Linked DNA regions of Homo sapiens: all the other regions are linked to region 1. The links come from fine-mapping of genetic effects on gene expression. A gene starts in region 1. Each other region holds a variant in brackets. All regions are shown on one strand. Distances are between the middles of the regions. Region 1 holds the start of PDGFA-DT (PDGFA divergent transcript). Region 2 holds the start of PRKAR1B-AS1 (PRKAR1B antisense RNA 1). Region 3 overlaps PRKAR1B (protein kinase cAMP-dependent type I regulatory subunit beta).

Region 1 (8,004 bases):
AGTGAAACTCTACCGCACCCCCCACCCTCCGCCCCCGATAAGGATCAGCCCAGGGATTTCCTGGGTCAAGAAACTACAGAAACCATCGGCCTTGTTAGAAAATGGTTTTGGCATGAAACGAAAATAGTTCAGGCCTCTCCACCACCATAATTAGGTACAAATTTCCAAATGACTAGACCATGTGATTTCACTTAATCCCCGCATGCCCCCCCTTTTTCAGAGTCCTTTGCAGGGAGAGAAGAATCTTCATGTCACGTAACTTCTTCCAATTCTGCTGCCTTTAGTTACTCTTTTTAACAAGTTCATCGCAGAGCCCCTTTTTAAACCAGGTTAAGGCTCCGACTGGAGTTCCCAGGCCGAGTGCTCATTTTGAAAAGAGCGCCACGCACGCCTGGAAGAGAGACCTCGCCTTCTAGGAAGGGGCTCTCTAGCCCTGAGCGGGCGGGCGGCCACCCTACACCCTCGCCCCTCCCACCCACCCGTGGTCCACCGGGGTCCCCCGGGGTGAGAGGCCCCTTTAACCCTTGCCAACCCGCAGCAAAACTCTGTGCTTGCAAACAAGCTGTGTTCTCTAGTGGCCCGGCCCCAGGGCCCGAGGGTGAGCCGCAAAAATAGCCCCCAGGCAGCAGATGCGTCCAAGGCTTTTCATTGGGTCGTGAAAACAGAAAGACACCGGCTTCTGCAGCCACAGAGGCCCAGCCCTGCGGCAAGAACGCGGCACCAGCTCGCAGGGATTACAGAGGGGGCCGGGCCCTGACCCGGGGGCCGCCTCCGCCCGCCCGCCCGTCGGACCGGGAGCCGCGCCTGCCCTTGGGGCCTCGCTCCGCGGGCTGCCCGCCCGGCGCACGGGCCAGGGCTCTGCGCCCAGGGTCTGGGCCGGATCCTGCCGCTCCCCCGGCCCGAGGGCAGGCGCGGGGCCCGCACACCTGGCGGAGGCCGCGGCTGAACTTTGTGTGACACACGCGGCGTTTTCCTTAAAGGCGAAAACAATCCCGGGGCGAGCGAGCAGCCCTCGGCCGCCGCTGGGAGAGAAAGTGGAGACTGGAAGAGAAACTCCTGACTCATCCGCCCGGGCGCTTATGGCTGGGGATTGGATTCTGACCTTTCGGTGCGCTCCTGCGCGGCGCCCCGCCCGGCCCCAGCTCGGGGCGCACAGGCCGCCCGCCCGCGCCCTCCCCGCGCGCGGAGGGAAGGGGCGCGATTTACCTACGGAGTCTATCTCCAGGAGTCGCTGGAGGTCCCGGATGCTGTGGATCTGACTGCGGGCCAGCCTCTCGATCACCTCGCGGGGGATCTCGGCTTCCTGCAAGCAGAGGCCACACGGTCAGCGCCCGCGGCCCCGACCCCGCCGGCACGCGCCCCCGGCCGCCAGGAGCGCCGCCGCCCCGGGCCCGAGGAGACCCCGCGAGCGCCGGCCGCAGTCCCCGCCCCAGCCCCCGCGGAGCCCTCGCCCCGGCCCTGGAACCAGAAGCCGGGGGTGGGGCTGGAAGAGACCCCAAATTCTCCACCCGCATCCATGTTCCGCCCTTTGCAAAATCAAAGCCCCCCCCCCTTTATATTTTCAGACAAAAGCCCCCGCACTCCGGCCCCTCCACCCGGGGTGTCAGTTACAGAAGGTCTAGGGGGCAGCGAGGGGGCCGAAAGTTTCTGATTTAATAGTGAGATCAACATCTAGAAAGATCAAGTTAAAATGCGTCACGGGTCGGCGAGAGTCACGGCAGCCCTAACACTTTAATCCAGGCAGGGCTTAAATTTCACGCCCCGGAATCCCGGGCCGAACCCGTGGAGAGGTCTCTCCGTCTCACAAACACACGCACGCGCGCGCAGACACACACACGCGCACACACATCTCACTCACACACTCGCCCCACCCCGGGCTCCGGCCCAGCCGCGGCCCTAGCGCCGACTAAGACGCCCAAATCCAGCCGGCGGCCGGGAGAAGAAGCCTCCAGGGAAAGCGAGGGTTAAACTTCCACCTCGCGCAGCTCTCCGTGCCCTGCGGAGACCACCCTCACCTCTGGCCTCCCCCACTCCCCTCCCCGATTTTTAAGGAGAGTCGGGGGTCGCTGGGGAGCCTGAAGCACTAAGTTCCCACGACGGGGGCTGTGGAAAGTCATTCATCACAGCAAAGCTCCCGGGGATGGGGATGGGGATGGGGATGGGGGGGCGGGGACGCCGCGGTGGGAGGGTGCGGACGCCTGGCCCAGCCCCAGCTCGCCTCGCTCAGCCACCTGTAAGCAGGCCCGGGCGGGCGGGACTGCGCCGGCCCTGAGCCCCGCCGGGCTTGGGGACTGGGAACCGAGGGCTGCAGCTTGGCGCTGCCCACCCTGCCCGGCCAGGGGCTTCCGCAGCAGCCGCCCCTACCTATTTATCCGCCGCCCTTCTCTCCTCCCCAGGCTCCGCCGGCTCACACACACCCCCTTCCCCGCTCCCCGCACCCCGCTGCTGCAGCGCCCGCTGCGCCCCAGCTCCCCTTCCCCGGAGAGGACACTGCGCCCCCCGAAGTTTCTGCCCACTCGTCCACCTCGCTGCTCCCCGGTCCCCCCGAGGCAGAGCGACCGACGCAACACGCTGGAAACTCCCCACACACACTTAGGCATGGCAGAAAATAGAACCCAGTTGGGAAAATCTAAACATCGACCACCCTGGCAGGAACCAAAACGCTCTCTGCAGAGCCCGTGGCGCCCCAGCCGGCGGGGGGTGTGCGCCGGAGGAGCCGGCGCAGGGACGGGGCGCGGGGGCGGCACCAACCTCGGCCAGAACATGGGCGAGGTATCCGCAGCCGAGGAGCAGCAGGCAAGCCAAGGTCCTCATCGCGTCCCGAGGCGCTGGCTGCTCGGAGGAGAGGCGAGGCCGCGGGGCGGGCGCTCCAGCCGGTCTCCTGTGGCGGCGAAATTCAGTACCATCCCTTAGGGAGCGCGGCCCGGAGGAGGGTGGCGCGGGGAGCACGGAGCTGGCGGAGCGCGCCCGGCGCGAGCAGTGAGTGCGGAGAGGCAGGCAGCGCCAGCCAGGAGGAGGAGAAACAGGGAGTGCGCGCCCGCAGCGCGGGGAGCCTCCTGGGCCGCCGGGTAGGGGGTGGGGACGGAAGGGGCGGAGGGCGGGGGCTGGGCTTCTTCCTCGGTGCGTTCCCGGTGCTGGCCGCCGCCGCGCTCGCTCCCCGCGCTGGCTTCAGGAGCGACCCGGCCGGTAATTCTGCATATTTGCGGACATCAGCCCCAAGAAGAACTCCGGAGGGAGTCTGGGGCCGCCGCCGCCGCCGCCGCCACACCGATCACCTGCCTGGACGCCTGGCCCGGCCCCGGCTGCGAGCTGCGAGCCGCCCTGCGCGCCCACCGCCGGCCCCGCGCTCGCCTCCGGCCTCCTCTTGCAGCCGCCGCCCGGCCGGGCACAGCGCGGCCCAGCACCCCCTCCGCGGCGCGCCCTCGGCTCCGGCGCCGCGCTCCGCCCTCCGCTCGCCGGGGCCGGGCAGCGCCCGCGGCCGAGCCGCCTGGCAGCCACCACCCGCCGCCCGGGGCCTCGCTGCGCCGCCCGCGCGGGCCTGAGGGCGGGCGCAAGGCCGAGTCGGCGCCTCCGCCGCAGCCGCCGCCGGGAGAGGAGGAGGAGGAGTAGGCGCAGGCCCGGCTCGCCGGAGTTGGGCGGGCTCCGCAGGGCGCGCGTGTGGAGCCGGCCGGCGGCGGGGAGAGGGTTATAGCGCCGCCGCCGCGCCCCTCCCCCGCCCCCGCCCCCGCCCCCCCCCCCCGCCTCCCCCGGATTCCGGGCCTGGGACCCGCACCTCGGAAGCGCTCGGGGTTCGTGCGGACCCGGCAGGGCCCGGGCGCCGCCGCCGCGGCAGGGAGCACACACGCGCTCGCGCAAGCAGCTAAATCCATCAAAGCCCCGCGCCCGGCTCCGCGCCGGGGCTCCGCGCCCCTCCCTCGAGCTTGCCCACCCTCCAGTGCCAGCTGCAATCCTGCGGCACCGGGTGGGGAGGGAGGAGGCCGCCGCAGAAGCGCCGCCGTCGCCGGCTCGCCTCTCTCGGGCCCCAGCGGCGGCAGCGGGCAGCGCCCAGAGCTGCTGCGCCAAAAAGGGCCAGAGAGCCGGTCCCCGCCCCCGCCCCGGCGCTCCGGCCGCTCTCCACGGTTCGGATCCAGGGCCCCAGCCTTCCTCTCTCCATAAAAGGAGGGGGAGTCAGTCTTTGGGGAAGGAGGGGGGCGGGTTTGGGGCACTCACCTGGCGGCTGCCACGCGCCCCCGCCCAGGATCCGAGGCCTGGGGCATCTGAATGAGGACCCTCCACCCACATTTCCACTTGGGAGCGAGCTCCAGTCGGGGAAAGGGCCTGCAGCCCGCCTCGTCCCCACCCTGGGACCCCGCGCCCCCCAGTCCCCCACTCCCGCGCCGAAGGCAGGGCCGCGCCCTGAGCCGGGAAGTCGAGGGGATGGAAGGGAAAGGAGCCACCGGTGAGGGTCCCCCGGGTTCTGAGCCTCCCGCGTCGGGATCCGTGGGGCGCACAGAGCGCCACCTCCGGCCGAGGCGCAGCTCAGAGCGCGATGCGGGGGAGGAACGCGCGCGGAGGCCGAGGTCTGAGCGTGGCTAGACGGCTCCCACGCCGAGAAAGGGCGGGTGCGCCTGGGCTGGATGGATTTCGCCTCCCTAGACCAGGAGGGATTGGACCCTGACTACAGGTCCAGGTGCTCGTCAGTGCCCTGCCAGGGGGTCTACGCGTCCTGGTACCGGGTCCAGCGGGGTGGCGTGCTGTGCAGACCCCGAGGCTAGACGGCCTAGGCCCCTGGAGCCCAGGAGACGCTTCCTTGGGTGAGCAGCGGAGAATCCCGCCCGGCCCAGCCGTCACCCCCAACCCTGTCGATTAAACCCCTGCCCCCGTCGCGGTCGCCCTCCCTCCAGACAAAGGCCGTTAAGGCGCAGCCCCGCGGGCGGTCTTTCATCCCCAGCTAGGCCAGCTCTAGCATTTCAAAGGCCGAATCCGGAGAGCGCTTCGGGGGCTCTCCCCTTCCCCCAAATATTTGGGGAGCGACGCCTCTCCCTCCGCTCCCAGTGGGTCGCGTCTACACGCGCCCTTCCACACACCTGCAGGCCCCCTCCCCACGTCTCTCCCTTCCGTTGGCCGCAGCCCCACACCACGACCCCCGCGGTCAAGCATGCCCTCTGGGTGGTCAGGACCAAGCGGGACCGGGACAGAACCAGGGGAGCCTTGGAAACGTGGAGGAGCCCCTTAAAGCCAGGCCTTGTCCCTCCAGGGGGAACTTGCGGCTTGGGAGGGGACACCCACTGCATGGCTTCTGGAAAGAGCCGGACTCGCAGGGCCAGGACGCAGGCCGGACCCCGGCCTCATTCTTCGGCCAGTTATCCCGGAGTGGCGCGCATCCTGTCTTCCTGGGCCTCGGACTGCTCGCGCGCAGAGGGGGCCCGAGGACACCTCTGTGGGGTTAGAGGACTCGGTAAGACGGTGTGGAAGGCAAGGAGGAAGGTCGCGTTGTATTGGGGATGGGGTACCCGTCCCTCCCAGCTTGAGGGATCCTGGGGGTCCTCGCCGCCTCTGAGGGCCTAGATGGCTGCTTCCCTCGGCTCCCCTGCCCGGCCTGGAGCTACGGGTGCGCCCAGCTAGAGTTTAGGGCCACCTGGGGACGTGCAAGGGGCGCTGGAGCGAGGCGGGGGCTGGGGCGGGGCGTGGGTGCTTCACCCGCGGGGGACGCAGAGCTTAGGCGAAAGCGGTGCAGGCATCTCTCTAATCGCCGGCCGCTATTAAAAATAAAACCGCGACCCGTCGCCATGGCGACCACAACAACAGCGGCCGCGCGAGGGAGGCGAAAACTTGTGCAGCCGCGCGACAGCCGCCTTCTGGGGAGACTCGGGGCACGACGCACCCGGCGTGGGACTGGGACCCCCCTGCCCGGCCCCGCCACATTCTCCGCCGGATCCCCGGAAGACACAAGGAGACGTGGACCCCCACAGGCTTTTTTGGGGGGATTGGGCGTTGAAACCGCAGGGCTGACTTAACCAAGAGGTCACCGACTTGGATAAAAAACCCACGCCCGCGCGGACCCCCCTCCCCGGCCTTCGTTTCCATTCAAACTCCCAGCGTCCTCATTGCAGCCCCTGGGGAGGGGGACGGAGGGACGAGGTGGGTTTCAGGTGCTCGGCCCAGGAGGGGACGGTGCGACCCGGGCCCCGCCGGCGGGTTTTGCGCGCGGAGGCTGCGGCACCTGCCCCGCCCGCCCTGCCGCGATCCTTGCAGACGGGGGCGGTCACATGCTTCTTTCTGGCCAGGAATCGAGTTTCACTTCCAGCCGCTATTAGTCGGTTCACACAGTTCACTGCAAACATTTGATAATGAGGCTAAATATACTCCCGCGTCGGAGGAGGCGTGGGCGTCCCCGCCCAGGCCCGGGAGACAGAGGCGCTGACCCCGGGACAGAGCCTGGCTTTGTGCGGGAGGCAGACGCGCCCCGCGCGCCGCCCCCGAAACATTCGCACCCCATGCTGAGGCGCGCGTCTGGGAGTCCGTGGGCGCCCCGAGGTGAGCCCGGGGCCCCTGGCGGAAGCAGCGGGGAGCTCCCGGCGGGTGCGGGGAGGTGCTGGTGGGAAGCAAGGTGCACCTGGCGGCCTGGGATGTCCGGTCGCCCCCGGAGCCGGTGCATCCGGCCTCTCCCGGCGCGCCCCGACGTGCCCGCGGGCTCATAATTACCGTGAGTCAGGTGCCCCAAATAGGCCGAGCGAGGGGGGCCGTCGCGCAGCAGGGGCGGGTGGCCGGACGTCTGCCCGGGACTGGTTGCCTCCCGCCCCTCCCCAAGACCCTGGCACCCAGGGAGGGCGGGAAAGGCCTTGGCCATTCCTCTGGGTAGGGGACTGGAGAGGGGAAGAAACTTTCGCCGAGTCCAGCGCTGCCCCCTCATACCCATCCCCACCCAGGCTGCGTGTCCGGGGCCCCTCCGGGGCTTGGCACCAGCAGGCACGCAGCGATCGCCGTCGTTGTTATTTAGTAGTAGTAGTAACGGCTGACATTTACAGCGACGTCGATGGCGCCAGGTGCCAAGCTCTTTCCTTGTATAATTTCATGGACACTCACGCATCAACTCTAAGCGAAGACTTGGAGCGGGGCTCAGCACCCCAGGGGTACCTCTGCAACCTCGGTAAATATAGACTATCCTCAATTCGCAGGGGCATTTGTACGTGGGGTGTACAGGCAGGAACAGGAAAGACGCTGTGGCCACCCAGGAGTAGGGGCGGCAGCCAACACCCCCTGGATCCCCAGTTCCAAGGTGCAGGGAGGGGGGCAGAGGCCAGTTCCCTCCGCTCTCTGCCCCTTGACCTTGGCCTTGGTGAGCTCTGTCCCTAGACTGCCCTGGGTGTCTGTTCCCTCATCTGAAAAGCGTGAGGCCCACAGCCGTCACTGCACACAGCTGCCGTCACTGCACACAGCTGCCTCCACTGTCGGGAAGCCTCCCTCCTGCCCACCTGCCCAGGAAAAGCTGCGCTAGCGTGCCCTGGGCAAGCGCCCTGCTGGCCACCTGCCTGCACCTGGGTTGGGGGTGGGGGGACCAGCTGAGCACCCAAATCCTGGCCTCTGCCCCCAGCGCCAGAGCAGATTTCAGAACAATTTGTAATGACGAAACCCCACGTTTCCCTTTATCTCTGGGCAAGGCTTTCTTCGTCCTAGGCAATTAATCCAAAAGCAACACCAGCCGAGTGGGCTGGACTCCTTGAAGATCAAAACTGCCCAGCGCAGGCATTAATTAAGTCATTATCTCAGGCCCCCAGCGACTAGGGATCAGGCCTTTCCAGTTCACACTCTCCAGAAAGGGAGATAACTGCCCCGCCAGCAGGGTGGGAAGGCTCTCTCTCCATGTTGTTTTAACTCCCTATTAAATCATTTTATTTTAAATACACAAACAGAAATGAAGTTGAAAATAGCACAGGAGCCCACTATCACTGTGTGAACATTTTGTGAATGAAGACATGTATGAAAGGATGTTTGGAGGCTTCAAGAAACGAAAGCCGAGAGTCT
Region 2 (8,004 bases), 86 kb after region 1:
GCATGCTGCCGGCTGGGGCCTGGCGCTGGGGCAGGAGGGTGGCCACCCGCGCTGAAGATGAGGACAAGCCCGGGGCGTGGGTGGTGGGCGTTTCCTCTGTGGGGTGGACGAGGCTCTTGCGGTGCGTGTGTTGGGGACATGAGACGGGGCGGGGCAGCTGCCAGGCGGCCAATGGCTTCCACACCAGGGGCCAAGAGCAGAACCCCAGGAGGGTTATCTCAGTCTTCCCGGCAGCAGTGAGCTCTGTTCGTTTTTCTGAGTAATATGGAAATGGCACGGCTCAGCCACACAAGGGCCTGGGCAAAGGTCACGGCCAGCAAAGAACACAGCCTGGGTCCTCTGAGTCCCGAGTCCACGCGATCCTGACCCGTCCACCACCCTCCTCGAGACACGACAAGTTAGGCGGGAACATAACCTGGGAGCCCCATGTCGGTTTCAGGCTCCACAAGGGATCTCTGGGTAAAGGGTTTGTCTCTTCCACATCTGTTCATTTAGGAGAAGCAAAGAACATGGAAAGCAGAATTCCTGGGGGTGGCCTCAACCCCAAGCCCTGCCGATGCAAACCGGCACCTTGAAGATGCCTTTGGAATTTAACTGGAAGATTTGAATGACATGGGCAGACACAGAAGAGGGAGAAGCATTCCACAGGGGAGGAAAGGCCTCAGTGGGGACCTATGGAGCTCCCAGGCCCACCGCAGGGAGGCAGGTCCTCGGTCATCTGCGGAGGTCAGTATCTATCAAAGCCCAGCCGCAGATAGATGAGCTGGGCCTGGCGGGGTCTTGTAGGATGTGTAGGAGTTTGTGAGGCAGAGCAGGAATGAAAGCAGAGGGGACAGGAGGGGCAGAACCAGAGTCAGGACATTCATTGGCTAATTTCCTGTTCTTGGTCCCTCTCCCCCATTAAGCCACAACCTCCCCCACACCAGAGCAGGCACCAGGTCCTCCTCGTCACAAGTGCCAGGCATAAAGCAGGCACTCAATAAACATCCAGGAAGGAGACGGCAGGGGAGGAGGCGACATGATGACTCCAGGACCCAGAGTGGAGGTGATGGGGGAGGAGGTGACACCAGGACCCAGAGTGGAGAGGGCAGGGGAGGAGGTGACACGGTGACACCAGGACCCAGAGTGGAGGGGATGGGGGAGGAGGTGACACCAGGATCCAGAGTGGAGAGGGTGGGGGAGGAGGTGACACCAGGACCCAGAGTGGAGGGGATGGGGGAGGAGGTGACACCAGGACCCAGAGTGGAGAGGGCGGGGGAGGAGGTGACATGGTGACACCAGGACCCAGAATGGACAGGGCGGGGGAGGAGGTGACACGGTGACACCAGGACCCAGAGTGTGAACTAGAAGAGGGGCTATAAGTAGTAGCATGAGATTTGGGGCTGGGATAAAGCGGTGGGTCCAGTCAGGAAGCTGCCCATCCCATACCTCCCGCAGAGGTGGCTCTGCCTTCAGCACTGCTGACCACTGGGCAGGCCTGGGCTGCCAGGGTCTCTCTGGGATCAGCCCTGCCCCATCTGCTGGGGGCTGAGCCCCATTCCCTGCAGCCCCCCATCAGGCCCTGGTGTCTGGATACCAGGCACAACGGGGCCACCTCCTGGGACGGGCCCAGGCCCCAAGACGATGCCCGGCTGGGATGCTGGCCGCATCCTCCTCTGTCTTCTCTATTTCCTGGGCTAGGCTTTTTTTAAACTCGAAGCAAAGCCAGCAGGAGATGACTCTGCGGCCTGGCAGCTGAGCCCAGGGTTGACCCGCCAGTGCCGCCCTCCAGCCTTCCCCCTCCACACTTCCTCTGAGGCCGGGCAGTACCCGGGACCTTTGGCACCTGCCTCAGTTTCCATCTCTAGGGGAGACAGGAGCACCCCCACTCCCTGACACAAAGGTCTGCCCCAGAGGCCCTGTCTAGGGGCCCAGCCCGTGGGTTCCGGCTCAGGACAGAGCACACCAGGGAGAAGAGAAACTGGCTCTTTCTCCGCCTGCGCGGGCCAGGCCCGAGGCACGTGCCCCCCACGGGGAGGCGGGACCCCTGAGTCATTTCCTGTGCTATCAGCTCCGGAAGCAGAGTGGGCCTGCTCAGGTTCCCAGAAACACAGCGCGATGGGGGACAGACTCCGCGGCTGCCACGGAAACAAATGAGTAAATGCCCTCCCCAGAATAGCGTGGCCGGGACAGAGGCACAGCCACCGGAGGCCAGACCTCGAAATAGCTCGTGCTGGGCAGCCGGGGGTGGCGTTGCCTGCACGGAAGAGTGCGGAGGCCACCTCCTGGGGCAGGTGGACAAGGAGAAGGGCAGGCGGACAAGGAGAAGGGCAGGCAGGCATCCCAGACCCAGAGAAGACTCAGCCAGCCTGGGAAGCAGTGACCGTCTCGGGTAGCAGAATCCCCAAAGCGTCCTGCACTGTGGGGGCTTCCAGTCTGTGTGCAGAAAGGCCGTAAAGAGACGGTCTCATGAGATGTCATCACCACGAGCCGCAGAGGGTCCTACGAGGGAGGCGTGGGACATGTCTGCTGATGCCCACTGGGAAGTGACATTTAGCAGAGAGCAGAAGGAGAAGCAGGAGCTAACGGGGTTCCCGGCAGAGCAGGGGACACACACCAAGGCCCTGGGGCCGCCAGTGCAGGCGGATTCCAGGAACCGAGGGAGGATGATGTCACTGAGGTCCTTCCCGCTGACTCCGCAGGGGCTCGGGCCTGATTCAAAGGGAAACAAACTCCTAGCGGGCGTTTTCCCAGAGGCTGCACCATCAGCTCCGCACCAGCAAGGTCAGGCTGCCGTGCGGGGGGCGGCCTGCAGAACAGGAGCCCAGCGGGGGATGAGGGGGCCTCAAAGCCTTCACACCAGAGCACCCAGGCTCTAAACCGGACGGCAGAAGAGATGGGAGCCAGAGGCTCTGGGCAAGACTGGGCTGCGGGGCCAGGGGTGATGTCATGTGCCGTGTGTATGTGTTTATTTACTTAGTTTTATACATATATGTATCTATTTTATACATACACATACACATGGCCTGGCCATCGGGCACGAGACGGGGTCTCCAGCGGAGGGGAAGCTTCTCCTTCCAAAACAGTGGGAGCATCTCATAAAAGATGCTCTTGAGACAAGCGTGGGAAGATGACACAGTGAGACCCGACTCACGGCTGGGACGTTCCAAGCTGGGAGCCAAACGCAGGCGCAAAAGGCAGCCGTTGTTTGATCGTGAAGTCGTCGGTCCTAGGGGGTCTCTAAGCACGTCGCTCTCCCACCCACTTTGAGATGTTAACATCCCATGTGGTGGGTGAGCCTGGTGTATTCATCGGCCTCGGATCTGGAGACGGCGCTGGGTCAAACAGAACCGCCCTGGCCAGCCCCAGCAGTCGCAGCCCGGGGGCAAGCGGAAGACAGCGGCCCTGGAAAACCTGAGGCCGCTGCCGGCACCTGCCAGCATCACCCTTGTTTCCCTCTGCACTTTCTCATATTCCCATATTCTCTTCCAAGAGATAGCAGTTGCATTTCTGGATTAAAACACTAGGAATACGGCACTCAGCGCAGTGTTTGTTGGGGGCCTGGTGCTGCCTGGAGGGCAAGTCTTCACACCGGACATGCAAAGACGCGCTATTTTCCAAAGACAAGTTAGCGACACTCACATCCACTTCCCCTTGATCAACGACATAGAAGTTGTCTCCTTCATTCCCTGTAACAAAAGAAGAAAGTCAACAGATACAAAGTACATCCAGACATACAAGTTACAGTTTCTCTTGCAAACGACTTTCGCAACACTGTTGCAGAGACCCTCGAAGCAACATCCTGGGTGCTACCAATTCTTTTTAATGACAAGATTATACAAACATTGAGATAACTTGTTAAAGAGCCTGTTCTTAAGTTTCATTAGTGAACTTTCTCTAAACAATGAGAGGTGTTTTTCTTTTTGTTTGTTTTTTGTTTTTTTTGAGACGGAGTCAGGCTCTCGGCTCACTGCAACCTCCACCTCCCAGGTTCAAGCGATTCTCCTGCCTCAGCCTCTGGAGTACCTGGGATTACAGGCACCTGCCACCACGCCCAGCTAATTTTTTTGTAGTTTTAGTAGAGATGGAGTTTCACCATGTTGGCCAGGCTGGTTTCAAACTCCTGACCTCAGGTGATCCACCCGCCTCGGCCTCCCAAAGTGCTGGGATTACAGGCGTGAGCCACCGCGCCCGGCCTCACAATGAGAATTTTATGCGTGTGTGTGTGTGTGTGTGTGTGTGTGTATAATTTTATATTACTTTAGTTTTATACATATGTATATATTTTATATTTACTTAGTTTTATACATATATGTATCTATTTTATACACACACATATGTATATATGTGTACATATATGTATACATGTACACACATATGTGTGCACATATACGTGCATATATATGTAGACATATATGCATATTATATGTGTGTATGTATGTACAAGTCTATATATATCCTTTTGAAATTTGAGACAGAGTCTTACTGTATCACCTAGGCTAGAGTGCAATGGCGTGATCTCAGCCCACTGCAACCTCCGCCTCCCAGGTTCAAGCGATTCTCCTGCCTCAGCCTCTGGAGCAGCTGGGATTACAGGCACCCGCCACCACACCCAGCTAATTTTTATTTTTAGTAGAGACAGG[G/A]TTTCACCATGCTGGTCACCTGGACCACCAGGCTGGTCTCGAACCCCTGACCTCAGGTGATCTGCCCACCTCAGCCTCCCAAAGTGCTGGGATTACAGGCGTGGGCCATCGTGCCTGCCCTTATGCTATTTTTTTTTTAAGTGCATAGTCCATTTTTCCCCTCTGGACTTTGGCTCCGAGGAGCAGGCAGAACGTACCTTGCTGTATAACAGTCTCCCCAGCGATGTGAGTGACAGGGAACATGGCATCGAATATGTCACTGAAAAGCAAAACACGCCAAATTAGGGCTGCAGGCAGCACAGGGACATTTAAACCCTTCCTCCCCTCATTTCACAGTCTTGTGTAAATCGCTTCACAGTCATTGGGGAAAATGAGAAAATCCATGAGAGTTCAAAGAAGAAAATTGAAATCCTTCATGACCCGAAGGCCAGAGATGGCACCGCCAGCCCTGGGCACACAACCTCCCAGCCCCATTTCTGTTCTGTGCACAGACGCAGTTTGCTGTTTTGGTTTTTACAAAAATGGGGTCATGCCATACATGCATTTTGAACTCCATTTAGAAAAACAAAAGTAACAATAGATTGTGAACATTCTCCCATCGGTAAATACAATTCTACTAGAATACAACCAGCAATCTTGATGACATGTTTTCTGCATTGTTTTCCTTTCAGGGAGAACACTTTCAGTCGAAGGAGCCTGGGACCCTTGACACAGAAGTGACATGTGCATTCGGAACCTCTCTGTGGAAAACACAGACCCTTCATGACACGCAAACTCGAAGCCGGTGAGGCCGAGTCTCAGGGCTGCGCCAACCAGGAAGCCTGGCTGTCCAATGTTCCAAATCTGGATGTGAAATGGACCATGCAGACAGGACCCAAGGGGCATGGGGGAGCTGGCAGAGGCACCCGGGACAAGTGGGGAAGCACCTGTCGGCCAGGAAGGTAGAGAGGCACCTACCCCAGAACACGGTGCCAGCGTCACACTCTTATTAACAGATGCAATAACCACCTTCGGAGACCAGACCCCTCAAAGAGCACTCAGCCCACAATGTGACGCAGAGAAACCAGAGACCCAGGCAGGGAGTGCACCCACGGGGACACTCCGAGGGTGGCCTCCTGCCTGCCCTGATTACTTAAAAAGGAGATTCTTGGAAACCTTTGCGGGCCCACAGGTGCACCCTGACTCCCAGGGATGGGGGCTGAGCCACCCAGGAAACAAATATGAAATCAAAGATCCAGACAGCCCTGACCCTCCTGATTCCAGGGTCCATAAATAAGTCATTCTTAAAATAGTGGTTGTTTTCTCTCTATTTAAGAAGTGCTTCTTTTTTGAGTCCTTGTTCCCAACTTCCCTGGCAACTCAGTTTCCTGTTTCCTCCGGGAGGAAGGCAGAACTGCAGGAGAGGTCAGTGTGTGGCAGGGCTGTAGGGAGGGCTGGGGGGCCTCCACTGTCCTCCCACCTGGGGAGGGATCAGTGTGTGGCAGGGTTGTAGGGAGGGCTGGGGGGCCTCCACCGTCCTCCCACCTGGGGAGGGGTCAGTGTGTGGCAGGGCTGTAGGGAAGGCTGGGGGGCCTCCACTGTCCTCCCACCTGGGGAGGGGTCAGTGTGTGGCAGGGCTGTAGGGAGGGCCGGGGGGCCTCCACTGTCCTCCCACCTGGGGAGGGGTCAGTGTGTGGCAGGGCTGTAGGGAAGGCCGGGGGGCCTCCACTGTCCTCCCACCTGGGGAGGGGTCAGTGTGTGGCAGGGCTGTAGGGAGGGCCGGGGGGCCTCCACTGTCCTCCCACCTGGGGAGGGGTCAGTGTGTGGCAGGGCTGTAGGGAGGGCCGGGGGGCCTCCACTGTCCTCCCACCTGGGGAGGGGTCAGTGGGTGGCAGGGCTGTAGGGAGAGCTGGGGGCCCTCCACTCTCCGCCCATGGGTGGTGGGGCTTGGCCATGCTGCCCCAGCCCCAGTCCCGGGCACCTGGCCCCGGTGGGGACATTTCCTGGCCACGGCCTCCCTGGTGCACGCATCTGCAGGAGCCGCCCTGGCACCGTTCTCTAAACTGCATTTCTTCAAAACCACAAAGTATGGGTTCTCAGAATGAACAGACCTTTAAGAAATCATTTTACAATTCCTCCCTCTTTTTTAAAAAAATATTTCAACTTATAATGGTAAAATATTCCATTAAATGCCTTAAGTAATCAAATGGACACTGTGTACCCCCCACCACCCAGCTCAGGACCCTGCTGCCTCCACCACTCTCTCCTGGAAAACTGTCCAGCATCACAGCTGCGGCTCCAGCCTCCTCCGGGCCCAGGTGTGGAGGGCAAGTGCTGCCTCCACCACCCTTGCTATGCGTCTCCACTTCACACATGGGCATCCGTGACCACACGTGTGCACCCGTGAAAAGCGTGCATTTCCAGTGGTGTCTGCATCATTTGCATATCACTGACAGAAAGATACCCTTTCACAATTCTATTCTCCCTCCTGACCCATATTTTCTGAAATGCACCTGGGTGAAAACATAAATCTGGAAGCTTCTTTGCTCCTTTTACAGCTGCCTAGTATTCTTTTTTTTCTTTTAAGAGATGGGGTCTCATTTTGTTGCCCAGGCTGGAGTATAGGGGTGCGATCACAGCTCACCGCAGCCTCCAACTCCTGGGTTTAAGGTGTCCTCTCACCTGAGCCTCCCAAGTAGCTGGGACTACAGGCACGTGCCACCACGCCTGCTTATTTTTATTTTTTATTTTTTAATTGATGGGTCTCGCTATGTTGCCCAGGCTGGTCTCCAACTCCTGACCTCAAGCAATCCTCCTACCTTGGCCTCCCAAAGTGCTGGGATTACAGGCATGAGCCGCTGCACCCGCCCTGCCTGGCATTCTCTATATGAAAACCCTCGCTCCTTCACCTGTTCCTGCCCAGATGGACGTTTCCAGTGCTTCTGGTTCCTGCCATCACACGCTGGGCCACGATGGACATGACAGAACTCCCCATGAACAGGGGGCAGGTCAATGTGGCTGCACCCCAGTGACTCGAGGCTCACGTTCCACTCACGTGCTTCTACCACAGCCTAAGCAAAGGCAGGGGTGGGCTGAAACCCTTCCTGGGAGGTTTCAGTCTCCAGAGGGGGCTGTTCAGTCCTTGGTATCAATGAAAGCCGACTTTCCACACACCCAGGTGCCTGGGCGTGGCCCCGCTCAGAGCAGCCCCTCCTGGAGTGCCTCTTAAATGAGCCTCACTGGGTTGCTCCGTTGGCCACACAGGTGTCCCTCATCTCCCCAGGGACGGAGGAACACAGTCCCCAACTCTCTGTGATCAGCAGAGCCCAGAGAGCCCAGCCTCGTGTACCAAAAAGGTCTGGGAGCCCCATTTTTCTTCAGAGGAAATGTTAATGCCCGAATG
Region 3 (8,004 bases), 100 kb after region 1:
GATGGGGTTTCTCTGTGTTGCCCAGGCTGGTCTCAAACTCCTGGGCTCAAACAATCCTCCCACCTCAGCCTCCCAAAGTGCTGGGATTACAGGCATAAGCCACCGCACCCAGCTCATTCACATTTCCGAATGTGTTTACTGCCTCACAATATTCCAGCTGCAATTTGAAGTGGAGCTGCTTTGAAGGTAGAGATTAATGTGAGGGAGAAATGACATCATCACGTTGAGTCATTCCACCCAAGAATACAGACCGCCTCTCCCTATTCAGATCGTGTTTTATGTCCTTATAGAGGTTTAAAACTTCCTCCCTAGAGTCTTCTGTAATCTGTTGTCAAGCACATTCCACTTCTCAGTGGCTGTTGCCCTCATGAATGGCATCCTTTCAAATTCTATTCTCCAGTTACTCCTCATCTGTGTCTCTTTTCTCATTCCCTGCACCCACCCAGCCCCTTGGGCTCTTTTTTTTCTCTCTTTCTTTCTGTTGAGACAGATTTAATATCTTCATTGTGATGGGAAGGAATCCGTATTTTTAAATTTTCTTTAAATTGACAAAGAAAAATTGTGTATATTTATTTATGGATTCCTTGGGCTTCTTAATGATGATTTTTGTAAGTTGAGCTTGCACCAACCCTGCTGAACACTCATAAGAATGTAAGAGTTGTTCTGTGTATTCTATGCTGGTTTCCATAGACATGATCAAATTCATCTTCTCTCTACCCTTCCAATTAGGACTCCTCTTATTTTTCTTTCTTTATAGCATTGCCGGGACCTCCCAAGCACAGTTAAACCATGAAAGCCATCAGAGCCTCATTGTGGTCCCTCCCTTAAAGAGCATGTAGCCAAAGATTCTCCATTAGCATGTTTGCTCTGTGTTGGGTATGTATGACCTTTACCAAGTTAAGAAGTGACCCTATTCTTAGTTTGCTAAGAATTTATGCAATAGTTGTTGAGCTTTGTCAAAACCTTTTCCAACACCTATGTGACATGTCACATGCTCTTTCTCTACAATCTACTAATATGGTGATTTACATGGATAGAGTATTCTGAGGTTGAACCATCCTTGAATTCTGGATCATCTCCACCTGATCACAGTACAGTACATACAATGATCTAGCAGCTTCCTCTTGTTTTCTATTTTCTGTAGCAATTTGAGAAGTAAGAATAGACAGTTTGCTGATGTTTGAAAGAACTCAACCAGTGAAACCATCAGAAAGAACCCTTTGGGAGGAAAGGTCTTTGGTTACCATTTCAACTTACTTAATGCTTCTAGATCTCTTCAGGTTTTCTATTTATTCATGTGCCAATGTTGATGGTATTTTCAAAATCATCTCCCAATATTTAAAAATTTACAAAATTCATAAAATCCAAATTGTTGGCTTTCCTTTGAAAAAAGAAAATAAAAAGAAAAGTCTGACAACACAGGGACCTTGTACTCCCAAAGCAAGAATTCAGCTCACCCCCACTTTGGAAGGAGCATGACCATCTCCAATCTGCCACAATTCCCAAGGACTCCACGTTTTCCACTTAATTCCTGAACCCCCAGGATCCCGAGTTTGCAACCCTTCCCTAAGGGGCTCACTATTGAGCAGTGGTGACAGATGCTTGTGTGGGGTGATGTCACAGCAGGTGGGGTCATCCCCATGACAGATGCTTCCTGGCCATCACCTCATCATGTGTGGTACAAGTCCCAACCTTGCCTGGAGGGACCCAGGGGACTGAGTTTCTGAAGAGTTAAGCCATCTGTAAAATGGGCACAGTAACACTCTCAGCCTCTAAAGCAGCAGGGAGGACTCAGTGATCATGAGGCTTGTGAAGCACTCAGCAGAATAAGGGGCTCCCACGGTCAGCAGCTGCTGCCATAGTGTCTGCTGGTTCCAAACCCCATGCAGCCGCTCCCCCAGTGCTGCTAGAAGGGTCACACATGTCCCAGAATCCCCCAGGAGTGATGCAAATGGAGCGGCCCATGCCCCGATCTCAGCCAGTCTCTTCACCACTCTGGCTTTTTTATTCCTTTTTGTTGGCTTACATTGCTAATATATTGTGGAACTGCAGCCAGAGGTGGCCTGACAGGTAAACACCTCCCCGCCCTCACCCATGCAAAGAAACCTGCTGAAGCAAACAGGTTCAGCCAGTTCTCAGAGCCGAGGCCACCTAAGGGGGACAACAGAAAGGATGGGCACCCACAGCCCCTCAAAGCTGCACCTCAGACCCGAGCACCAGGTGCCTGCCAAGGCTGGGCATGCATTCAGAAGAGCAGCGAGGTGAGGGGTGGCAGCAAGGACCCCCGCGCCACACAGGGCCTCCCGCTCACTCCTCCCGCTCCAACAATCTGCATTTCTGTATGTTAGAAATGTCTGCCTGAGGCTAAAAGAAATAAAGAATTTTTGTGACTTTTAAACAAAAGCATCATGACATTGACCTGGGAGAACATGAATGTGCTAGGATCGTATCCAGTAATAAAGAAGGCAAACTGAGTTATTAGCACTTCCAACATGTCTGATCTTTAGTTTTTTTCAACTCTCTATTTTGAAAATCTTTGAACCTTCCTAGGGATGGAAGGGGGATGTCAGAGTCAGGACACGGGTTGTTATTCCCCCTCCCATGATGTCAAAGAGCAGAACACACAGAGGCACATATGCACCAACAGTAGGTCTGCAGAGAATGTGCATATGTGTATTGACAAGGAGCAGACGGGAATGATGAGTGAAGAAAACAGAACATTTACCAAAAAGGACCCCGCTGAAGGCAGAACACTTGTTCCAGCGCATACTAATATGTTTTTCTGACTTCTTATGTTTTTCAACATGACGCTATCCAGGGGGAAAGAGTGGCCTGCTCAGTCTGTCCTCCTTTAGAAGTGGTTCTGAAAGACCTAGACATGCTGCCCTCGCTGGGGAAGAACCTCTCTCCATTGCGGATTTAAACCTTAGGTCAATGTTATTTAAGGAAAGGAAGTGGCCTAAACCCTTGGGCAGACCCTGGGTGCTGGCATCACGGTCCTATCTCTTCTGTCCCAGCCCAAGACCCAGGGTTCCCATCTGCTGGGATCCCAGCGCCCCAGACACAGCATCCTGGCTTGTGTTTAGCCTCTTCCACTGTTTAGGTGAAGGCTTGTTCCGTGACTCTGTTGACTACAAGTTTCCAAAAAATTCTCTCTAAATAGCAATAACTCAGTCCTGGCATCATGGAAAGCAGAGCTCCTGCTCCCGGCTGGGGTGCCAACAGCACGGTGTTCTCAAATCCCCTGGGACCCTCGGCCACACTCTTGACTGTGGGTCTGGTTCCTAACCACAAACATGTGGTAACAACAATTCTCTCTCTGGCCAAACTTTAGTCAGGTTCCAGAACCTTCTTCTAGGCCCATCTGTACTTCCTTGTAAAATAATCCTGCCAAATCAGTTCAGCCAGAACCGATCACCCACCATAATCAATATGTGATCATCTTTGATATCTGATCATCCTCAGTGTCTGATCAGGCTCCTCACACCCACCACCCCATGGGGGATGTCTGGTCACCCTGGCCTCTCTTCAGCAACAATCCTGTTAGGTCAGTGAAGCCAGAACCCCCCAGCCCCTGGTGTTTCCTCTCGGTCATTTTCCATCCACTGCCACTTAGGTGGAAATTCTCACGTTCTCATCTCATATTCGGAGGCAAGCCCAAGCTCCTTCCTCCACCGCAAGACCCCATTGCAGTGATCCCTGTACCTAGTGCAATGGTCCAGAATGAAGTCTTCCATGCCATGCTTTAACACACGTCACTGAATAACGTTTTCTTGGCATTGGAGAGAGAAGCGCGTGAATGGCCAGGGTTCAGGGTATGGAATGAACCTATGGAGTCCCAGAAGGGAGGTACAAGCCAAGTGTCCGCTCTACCCTGTGGATCTAGGGAAGGAGGTGGAGGATGGCAAATTCCTTCTGTACATTCTTGGGCTTCCAACCAGAATTGCTAGTCCATGCCACTGGCCATGGCGTCCAGCCCTGGATGTTCACAGTATCCCCAGATACCCACGCCAGCCCTGAGCTTCTGAATCAGAATCCACTTTGGATGAAGACCAGCACCCGCAGGTTTAGGTTGGTGACAGCAAACTTTTATCTTAAAAATATGCATGCTGACCAAGCATGGTGGCTCACACCTGTAATCTCAGCACTTTGGGAGGCTGAGGCAGGCGGATCACCTGAGGTCAGGAGTTCGAGACCAGCCTGGCCAACATGGGGAAACCCCATCTCTACTAAAAATACAAACATTAGCCAGGCTTGGTGACATGTGCCTGTAATCCCAGCTATTCAGGAGACTGAGGCAGGAGAATCGCTTGAATCCAGAAGGTGG[G/A]GGTTGCATTGAGTGAGATCGTGCCACTGCACTCCAGCCTGGGCAACAGAGCAAGACTCCATCTCAAAAAGAAAAAAAAAAAGTGCATGCTCTTTGAATGGGTTTTTCTTTCCCCTAGCATTTCCTCTATAGAAGCAATTTTTAAAATATATAAGATGTGGCTAGCAGGCTGTTTATCACAGAGCTGCTTGTAGCCATGAAGGTTTGAAATATGCAATAGTTGGTGATTGGTTAATTAAGTTACAGAATGGAACACAAGGAGGTATTAAAAAACAGTGATGTGGAGACACATCCACGGAGACTGGATGATGGTCACTATAGGCCTATTAAATTTAAAAATGGGTCATAAGGCAAAATCTGATCAAACTGCAAGGAGAAACAGACAAATGCACCATTATAGTTTAAGACTTTAACGCCCCTCAGCTAGTTATTGACAGATCCAGCAGGCAGAAAATCAGTAATCTAGTTTGAAAAATTATACACAGGAAATAAAAAAAGAGAATCAGTAAGAACATAGATTAACTGAATGGCACCATCAGTTAACAGGAAATAATTGACATTTACAGACTTCATCAAACAAGAGCAGACTACACATTCTTCTCAAGCTCACATGAAACATTTACCAAGAGAGAAAACATTCTGGGCCATAAAATATCCCTGAACAAATGTAAAAGAACAGAAATCATATAGTGCATGCTCTCACACCGGAAGTGAATTAAACTAGAAGTCAGTAACAGAAAGATAGATAGGAAATCCCACAATATTTGGAGATTAAATAACATACTTCTAAATAATGCATGGGTCAAAAAAGAAGGCTCAAGAGAAGTTGAAAAATATTTTGAACGAAATGAAAATGAAAATAGAGCTTATCATAATATGCAGGAGGTAGCAAAAGCAACACTTAGAGGGAAATCTATAGCACTGAATGCATATATTAGGAAAAGATCCAAAATCAACAACCTAAGCTTCCATCTTGGGAAACTACAACAAGAAGAGGAAATTAAATCCAAAGCAACAAAAAGAAAAGTAAGAATAAAAATTAAGACAGAAATAAATGGAATTGAAAATAGGAAAATACTAAAGAAAATCGATGCAGCCAAAGCATCTCTAACTTCAGAAATGAAAGAAGGGACATCACTACAGGTCCCATGGACAAGAGACATCACTACAGGTCCCATGGACAAGGGGCATAACTACAGGTCCTATGGACAAGGGGCACCGCTACAGGTCCTATGGACAAGGGGCATCACTACAGGTCCCATGGACAAGGGGCATCACTACAGGTCCTATGGACAAGGGACACCACTACAGGTCCTATGGACATTAAAAATAAAATAATATTATGAAAAACTCTATGAGACCAGGCACGGTGGCTCATGCCTGTAATCCCAGCATTTTGGGAGGCCGAGGCAGGAGATCACCTGAGGTCAGGAGTTCGAGCCCAACCTGGCCAAGATGGTGAAACCCCATCTCTAGTAAAAAATACACAAAATTAGCTGGGCATGGTGGCAGGCACCTGTAATCCCAGCTACTGGGGAGGCTGAGGCAGAAGAATCACTTGAACCCAGGAGGCAGAGGTTGCAGTGAGCCGAGATCGCGCCATTGCACTCCAGCCTGGGTGACAAGAGCAAAACTCCATCTCAAAAAAAAAAAAAAAAAAAGAAAGAAAGAAAAACTCTATGACTACACATTTGATAACTCAGATAAAATGGGCCAGTTCCTTGAAATACACAATCTACTAAAATTCACACAAGAAGCAACAGATAATCTGAACAAGCTTGTATCTATTAAAGAAGTTGAATCAGTAATTATTAACCTTTCAAAACAAAAAGCGTCAAGCCCAGGCTGGGCACAGCAGCTCACACCTGTAATCCCAGCACTTTTAGAGGCTGAGGCAGGAAGATCACTTGAGGCCAGGCATTTGAGAGCAACCTGGGCAACATAGCAATACCTCATCTCTACTAAAAATTTTAAAAAAATTAATCAGGCCTGGTGGTGCACACCTGTAGTCCCAACTACTTGGAAGGATGAGGCCAGAGAATCACTTGAGTCCAGGAGCTGGCAATTGCAGTGAGCTATGATTGTTCCACTGCACTCCAGCCTGGATGACAGAGACAGACCTTGTCTCTCAGAAACAAAAAACAAAAATAAAAACAAAAAAGGACTAAGCACAGATGTGTTCACTAGTTAATTCTACCAAATATTTAGGAAGAAATAATACCAATTCTCTACATTAGCTTCAGAAAATAGAAGCAGATGAAACACTTCCTAAATAATTCTATGAGGACAGCTTTAACACGAAAACAAATTAATCTGATCTTGGAGGAAAAAAAAAAGGAAAGATAAAGTGAACTTTTTTTTTTTTAGAGACAGGGTCTCTGTCACCTAAGCTGGATTCCAGTGGCATGATCATAGCTCACTGCAGCCTTGACCTCCTGGACACGAGCGGTCCTCCCGCCTCAGCCTCTCAAGTAGCTGGGACTACAGGTACAGCACCATGCTCAGCTAATTTTTATTTATTTATTTATTAAGATGGAGTCTCACTCTATCACCCAGGCTGTGCAGTGGCGTGATCTCGGCTCACTGCAAGCTCCGCCTCCCGGGTTCAAGCGATTCTCTTGCCTCAGCCTCCCGAATAGCTGGGACTACAGGCACCCGCCACCACGCCCAACTACTTTTTGTATTTTTAGTAGAGACAGGGTTTCACCATGTTGGCCAGGATGGTCTCAATCTCTTGACCTCGTGATCCGCCCACCTCGGCCTCCCAAAGTGCAGGGATTACAGGCATTTTTATTTATTTATTTGTAGAGATGGGGTCTCGTCGCATTGCCCAGGCTGGTCTCAAACTCCTGGGCTCAAGCAACCATCCCGCCTCAGCCTCTCAAAGTGCTGGGATTCCAGGCATGAGCCACAGGGCCTGGCCCCAAAAGATAACATTTTAATCAGCACTGGCGGAGGGTAGCGGTGGGGGCCGAGGGATCCAGGGTTCCCTAAGAGCTCACAGGGTCCTTCTGAGGACTTCACTCTCACCTGGAACTTTTACAACACCCATTTTACAGACGGGACACTGAGGCCGAGACTAACTCATGACTCCCCCACGCCTGAGGGTTTGCAAAGGGCAGAGCCAGGTGCGGACCCAGGCGGTCGGACAGCCACGGCCAACGCCACCCGGCACTCTACACGGCTGACCCCCCCAATCCATCAGGACTGCAAGGCCAAATATCACACCGTCCGGGGCACCCCAGTACTGAGCTTGACAGCAGAGGGCACTTCCAATTGTCCCTTCCTAAGGAGGGCACCAACACCCCCCAGGGTGGGCAGGGGCTCGGGCGCTCTCCATCCAGAGCCCCCCGCCCAGCTCACGCCCGCCCTCCCCGGGCACTGGGGGAGGAGGTGAGCACCCGCCACTCAGGCTCAGGCAGCCTGGAAGATCCAGGCCACGACTGCCAGCGCTCAACTCCACTCGGCCCTCACTGGTATTTTCCGAGTGCCCGCTATGTACAGGCAGGTCTGTGCTGGGCGCCAGGTTGCCGGGAAATGGGGCACACACAGCCCCTGTCTCATAAAGGCACCAGCAAAACAGGGGTGAACATCGAATGGGTGGGGCCCTTCTGACTGTCACTCACGGAACAAACACAGGCCGAGGCCTCATCACAGGGGGACAGCGGTGGGGGGAG

What was found. PIP is the estimated chance that this variant, and not a neighbour inherited with it, causes the effect.
Region 2: its variant is fine-mapped to the expression of PDGFA-DT in whole blood (TOPMed, PIP above 0.99).
Region 3: its variant is fine-mapped to the expression of PDGFA-DT in whole blood (TOPMed, PIP above 0.99).

The regions. Positions count from the first base shown.
Region 1 is chr7:516,188-524,191 of GRCh38, forward strand. It overlaps PDGFA-DT (PDGFA divergent transcript), which reads left to right and starts at 4,204. Exons shown (of 3, transcript NR_033963.1): 1 at 4,204-7,129; 2 at 7,893-8,004. PDGFA (platelet derived growth factor subunit A) reads right to left here and starts at 3,659. Exons shown (of 6, transcript NM_033023.5): 1 at 2,752-3,659; 2 at 1,207-1,303. The coding sequence starts at 2,814. RefSeq lists enhancers at 606-1,528, 2,451-3,372, 5,217-6,138 and silencers at 686-785, 2,629-2,718, 3,179-3,318, 3,599-3,688, 3,789-4,128 and 3 more.
Region 2 is chr7:602,572-610,575 of GRCh38, forward strand. PRKAR1B (protein kinase cAMP-dependent type I regulatory subunit beta) reads right to left here. Exons shown (of 11, transcript NM_001164760.2): 5 at 4,820-4,881; 6 at 3,622-3,668. PRKAR1B-AS1 (PRKAR1B antisense RNA 1) reads left to right here and starts at 274. Exons shown (of 2, transcript NR_110054.1): 1 at 274-726; 2 at 5,294-5,931. RefSeq lists enhancers at 967-1,016, 1,077-1,762, 1,697-1,806, 2,077-2,436. The variant G/A (reference allele first, on the strand shown) is at 4,623.
Region 3 is chr7:620,040-628,043 of GRCh38, forward strand. All of the region lies in intron 4 of PRKAR1B (protein kinase cAMP-dependent type I regulatory subunit beta), which reads right to left. Among named protein-coding and RNA genes, the nearest start is that of PRKAR1B-AS1, 21 kb to the left of the region's middle. The variant G/A (reference allele first, on the strand shown) is at 4,328.